2 separate regions of the Homo sapiens genome follow, and region 2 is linked to region 1. The links come from fine-mapping of genetic effects on plasma protein levels. Region 1 holds a variant in brackets. A gene starts in the other region. All regions are shown on their reverse strands.

Region 1 (2,902 bases):
TGGGCCACATTGGAAGAAGAATTGTCTTTAGCCACACATAAAATACACTAACACTAATGATAGCTGGTGAACTAAAAAAAAAAAAATTGCAAACAAATATCATAACGTTTTAAGAAAATTTACGAATTTATGTTGGACTGCATTCAAAGTCATCCTGGGCCGCAGGTTGGACAAGCTTGCTCTTGCTGTAAGGTATCATTGTCTGGGGGTTGGGCAGAAGGGAGGTTTTAGAGGGTCACAATGAAACCTCTACCACAATTGCACTAGACACACACACACACACCTACACACCCACCCACACACACAGGAACACACACTGCATGGCTAGGGTGCAGCATTGGGCATCTTGCCGATACTTTCAAAACTGTGCCTTCTGCCCAAGAGCCAGAATGCAGAATCAATAATTATTTCTATCCACATCTTTACAAAATAGTAAACAACCCTGAGGCTTAGCCAATCAATGACCTCAGTTCCTGCTCTTTGTCCAGAATCCTGCTCTCTGGACTTTCACTGTGTAAGGGGCATTTGAGTTGTAACCCAGAAGAACTCAGAGCTCGAAACAACCAGAACAAGCACAGCACACTTTAGAGGCACTTACTGGGGAGTCCTTATCCCAGCTCTGCCAGATAACCTACAATGTGACCTGTTTTGCAAGTCATCAAACTGTTAGGAGCCTCAGTTTTTGCATCTGCAAAATGGAGTAAGAACACCTAGTTCATGAGGCTTTTGTAAGGATTGTGTGGAATCGTTCTTGGAGGTTTCTGGGAGGATGTCTGACCCAAAGAAGGGATTCAGGTCAATGTTTGCCAAACCTGGAGTCGGATCTTTGCTGTGGACATTTGCCTCTTGGAGCAATCTCTTGACTTTGAGAACTCTGATCCACGATATGGGATGCCCTGTGTTCTTTAAGACCACCTGATGGCACCCTGAGTCTGGTCTCTCCTTCCCTGGGCATAGCAGTTCCAAGGGGACCTACCACGTGAGAGCATCACCCTTGCATGGAGACCTTCACCTTGCATTGTGCCATCTGTCACTGCCTGCCCATCCGACTTGATCCTGGCTGTCTGGAACAAGACCTTCTCTCTGGGGAAAATATTATTGTTTTTTTTGGCCACTTGTTTGATCCTCCAGAGTCAATATTTGCAGCGATAAGCACAGTGTGATGTAGCCAGTGGAGTTGTTTATAACTCTGCCCCT[C/T]TCCTATTGGGTTCTGGTTCCTTCTGGGCCACACTGTGAGGTGAGTGGGTGTGCATTTCAACAGCAGTGGGTCCTGGTACTCACCAAAACTGCTTTGGAAGAATATGGAAGAGGAGCTGGAGTCTGTTTGCTCCTGTCTCCTGAAGGTGTGCCCTCAGCCTACGCTGAATGCTAAGCAGGAATTTATGTGACCTTCCCAGGAAGCTGGCCTAGACGCCTTTCCCTCCTAAGCCTTTCTTGTAACACAAACCTCAGGGCTGCCCCAGTCTTCTCTACTAGATAGTGAGATCCCAGAGGAGTCTTTCTATAAAAATAAGATTTTCTGTTTCCACTTCACATAAAAATGCCTAGGGAGGTTTTCCACCCAGTTTGGAGGGCTTATTTCAAATGATTTGACTTAAAATACAGGCTATGAGGAGTGGGCAAAACTCCCTTTGAAGTGGCCCATAGGAGAGTACCCCAAGGGCTGGAGGGGTGGCCATTCTCTGGAGAGTGTGACTACTCGGGATACCATGAGAGGCCACAGTGACATCTGATTAGGAGAGACAGGCTGCACATATTAATCCATGGAGGACAGAGGCGACAAACATGGTTTCAACTGTGAGCTCCAAACCAAAAGTGATGAGGCCATGCATTCAACAATCGTAATTGAGCTGCTTCTCATATGGGCAACTCTATATGCCTCTAAGAGAGTAGAAGCAAGGATGGATATTTTTTCTTTTCTCTCTTTTTTGTTTTTTTGAGACAGAGTCTCACTCTGTCACCCAGGCTGGAGTGCAGTGGGGCGATCTCGGCTCACTGCAAGCTCCGCCTCCCAGGTTCACGCCATTCTCCTGCCTCAGCCTCCCGAGTAGTTGGGACTACAGGCGTGCAGCACCACGCCCGGCTAATTTTTTTTTGTATTTTTAGTAGAGACGGGATTTCACTGTGTTAGCCAGGATGGTCTTGATCTCCTGACTTCCTGATCCGCCCACCTCGACCTCCCAAAGTGCTGGGATTACAGGCGTGAGCCACCGCACCTGGCCAAGGGTGGATTTTTTAAACCATGGGTAATGGTTTTCTGGAGAAATACAGGCAGCCTGGCTAGCTAGTAATAATAATAATAATAATAATAGTAATAGCAACAACAAGAGAGGAAGTGGAGGAGGAATAGGAAGGAGGAGAAAGAAGAAGGAGGAACGGAACAGTGGCATGGCTGGGTAGTCCACTATGTGCCAGCCCCTTAGCAAAGTGATATCCAAAAGTGATCTCATTTAATCTTCAAAAAACCCCTACAAATCAGCTCTTATCATCTCCACTTTTCAGGTGAGGAAAGTGATGCTCTGAGAAGTTAAAGCTACTTGCCCAAGGTCATGCAGCTTACCAAAAGCAGATACTGATACGGTTTAGCTGTGTCCCCATTCAAATCTCAACTTCAATTGTATCTCCCAGAATTCCCACGTGTTGTGGGAGGAACTCAGGGGGAGGTAATTGAATCATAGGCCTCATCTTTCCCCTGCTATTCTCGTGATAGTGAATAAGTCTCACGAAATCTGAGGGGTTTATCAGGGGTTTCCGCTTTTGCGTCTTCCTCATTGTCTCTTGCTGCCGCCATGTTAGAAGTACCTTTTGCCCCAGCACTTTGGGAGGCTGGGGTGGGCGGATCACAAGGTCAGGAGATCAAGACCATCCTGGCTAACACAGTGAAACCCCGTCTCTCCTTAAA
Region 2 (2,902 bases), not on the chromosome of region 1:
TTTGGGCCTTGGCTCTGGTGCCTTCTGCTCTGAGGCACCTATTCGGGGTCCCTTATACCTGGAACGCCACTGCTCTGTGTCCCCCTGGCCCCAGCAGCACCGATCTGATGTCATCTGGTTTGTTGGGCTGCTGGCTCATGGCCAGTCTTCTTCCAGCAGCAGGCGCTGTGTACCTCGCTGCCTGCTGTATCCCCAGCGGCTGGCACCTGTTAGGTGCTCATTGTGCCACTGCTGGAGGGATTTGTATCAAATATACCCACAGATAAGAGTTCCCCCCTTCTTTGCTTTATTCACAGAGCAACAGATGAGGGTCCCTGATGGATATTAACCCCACATCCTCCACTTCCCCCTCTTAACAGCTGCATAATATTCCACAGCAAGCAGATGCCTCCCTACCCTTGGCCACTCCCGCCTGATGGGGCATCGGGTTGTATCCAGTTATGTTTGTTTTTCCCTCCACAGATCTCTTGGTCCATTAGTGGAGAGAACTGAGACATCCTTTCTAAGGGCTGCATTCCTAGAAGGGGAGATTGCTGGGTCACGGAGTTCGAACATTGTTAACGTTAATAGATTCTGCCAAATTATCTTGCAAAAAGCATGCAGCAATTTAAGTTGCAGGCAGCGTGTGGACGCCTGTCTTCCCGCATTCCAGCTCAAAGCCAGCAATGGCTGGGGTCGATCTGGGAGTGTTGGGGGTAGGGGCAGGTGGAGTCACTGCTTAATTTGCATGATTCTGGTTATTCGTGAGATCAGTTTTTTTTTTTAATCGCACTTATGCTTATTGTTTATTAGCGTTTCCTCCCATCTTTGCCTGAAGTCTCCGGGGACTGCCTTTGGGGGTCGGGTAAACTTGTCCCCTGCGAAGAGGGCCCAGGGTTGGGGTCTGGAAACTCCGAGGCTGCACTTGCCAGCGGCCTCTTAAGGCCACAGCGTCCCCGTGGTTTCTGGCTCGCAGCCCCCCGAGACCCAGGACTTGTCCAAGGTCAGGGCACCGCGGGTGCCCCCGGGCTGGGCCGCAGCCAGACTGCGCTTCCCGCGCGCCTTCGCTTTGCACCAGGATCGCCCAGGAAACGCCTGCGGGCACCTTGAGGAAGGTCGGCGGCTCCGGGCCAGCTCGCACTGGCCGGGGGTGGGGCGGGGGCCGTACCTGCTGCGGAAGCCCCGAAAGCTTTCGCCCGGCCCCTCGCCGCCGCCGCGGGGGCTGGCTGGACTAGGCGGGCAGGCTCGAGGATGCGGATGAACCCAAGCGTCCTCGAGTGCCCGGAGGCTCTCCGCCTCAGTTTCCCGCCCAGAGGCAAGGGCGTGCGAGGGGATCCAGATATCCAAGGACCTGAGGTTTCGGCCTCGAGGTCTTGGGCGGGGGACTGGGCAGGCTGCGCGGGGTCCCAGCGAGGGGACAGCTCGGGTGGGCGGCCAGGGTGTTGGGGGCTGCGGGCGGCGGACAAAGCGGCGGCACCACCCCGCGGCGCGGGCCAATGGAATGAATGGGCTATAAATAGCCGCCAATGGGCGGCCCGCGTTGTGCCCCTTAAGAGCCGCGGGAGCGCGGAGCGGCCGCTGTTCGCCTGCGTCGCTCCGGGAGCTGCCGACGGACGGAGCGCCCCCGCCCCCGCCCGGCCGCCCGGTGAGTGGGCCCGGGGGCCGGGGGCGTCCGCGCCCGGGCTAGGGGCGCTGCGTGCAAAGGGGGCGCGTCGCCTGGAGCGCGCGCCGGACCGGCCGGGGGTCCCCGGCGATGATGGCGCTCCCCGCGCGCGCTGCGGACCCCGCTGACCTTGGCCGCGTCCCGGGGGGCGCCGGGGGGCCCGGCGGCGGGGGCCTGAGTGGTACGCGGGAGCCCGGGAACCCCGGCGTGCCGGTCCCCTCTGACCCCGCGTCTCCCCGCAGCCCGCCGCCGCCATGCCCTTCTCCAACAGCCACAACGCACTGAAGCTGCGCTTCCCGGCCGAGGACGAGTTCCCCGACCTGAGCGCCCACAACAACCACATGGCCAAGGTGCTGACCCCCGAGCTGTACGCGGAGCTGCGCGCCAAGAGCACGCCGAGCGGCTTCACGCTGGACGACGTCATCCAGACAGGCGTGGACAACCCGGGTACGCGACCCCTCGGGGCCGGGGTCCCGGCCCCCCCTCCCCCCGCGCAGCCGCAGGGTCCTCAGCAGCGCGCTCGGGCCCGGCAGTGACGTCACTGTCCCCGTCCCGCGCCCCCTCCCCCAGGCCACCCGTACATCATGACCGTGGGCTGCGTGGCGGGCGACGAGGAGTCCTACGAAGTGTTCAAGGATCTCTTCGACCCCATCATCGAGGACCGGCACGGCGGCTACAAGCCCAGCGATGAGCACAAGACCGACCTCAACCCCGACAACCTGCAGGTGCGGGGCTGCGGGCGGGCCGGGCGGGCGGGGCCGGGGTCTTCGGGCGCTCACTCCCGTCTCGCCTCCCAGGGCGGCGACGACCTGGACCCCAACTACGTGCTGAGCTCGCGGGTGCGCACGGGCCGCAGCATCCGTGGCTTCTGCCTCCCCCCGCACTGCAGCCGCGGGGAGCGCCGCGCCATCGAGAAGCTCGCGGTGGAAGGTAGGGGCCGGGCGGGCCGAGGGGCGGCGGCGGCCGCGTCCCCCTCCCGGCGCGGTCCCCGCCCGCTTTTGTTTACGTCGCCCGGGAGCGGCAGCCGCCGTCGCGCTCTTATCTGCGCGCGCCCGGGTTCAGTTTCCCGGAGGGACCGAGGGACGGAGGCCCAGCCCCGCGCCCACAGCGGCCTGGGGCCCAGGGAGGGCGGGTCCTGGCGCGGGGTCACCGCCTGGGACCGTCGCCCGGGCCGTGAGGACTGGACGCCCGCAGATCCGGGCGGGTGGGGCCCTCTGACGTCCCCCGAGGTGGGGCACGGGGGCGGGCGGGTCCGCGCTG

Which allele goes with the higher level. Alleles are on the strand shown, and positions count from the first base shown. The strength of an association depends on the size of the effect and on how common the allele is.
As copies of T replace C in region 1, the plasma level of the protein whose gene starts at base 1,560 in region 2 goes down (weak association).

The links. PIP is the posterior inclusion probability: the model's chance that the variant is causal. Protein levels are from antibody-based Olink assays in UK Biobank. Linkage for the fine-mapping came from a reference panel and not from the study's own genotypes, which makes the PIPs less certain.
Region 2: CKB starts here. The variant in region 1 is fine-mapped to the plasma level of the CKB protein (UK Biobank, PIP above 0.99).

What each region holds. Positions count from the first base shown.
Region 1 is chr2:216,613,997-216,616,898 of GRCh38, reverse strand. No RefSeq gene overlaps it. Among named protein-coding and RNA genes, the nearest start is that of LINC01280, 8.5 kb to the right of the region's middle. RefSeq lists a silencer at 1,399-1,693. The variant C/T (reference allele first, on the strand shown) is at 1,198.
Region 2 is chr14:103,521,488-103,524,389 of GRCh38, reverse strand. CKB (creatine kinase B) reads left to right here and starts at 1,560. Exons shown (of 8, transcript NM_001823.5): 1 at 1,560-1,624; 2 at 1,885-2,089; 3 at 2,213-2,367; 4 at 2,440-2,572. The coding sequence starts at 1,897. RefSeq lists an enhancer at 433-1,318 and silencers at 2,682-2,731, 2,872-2,902.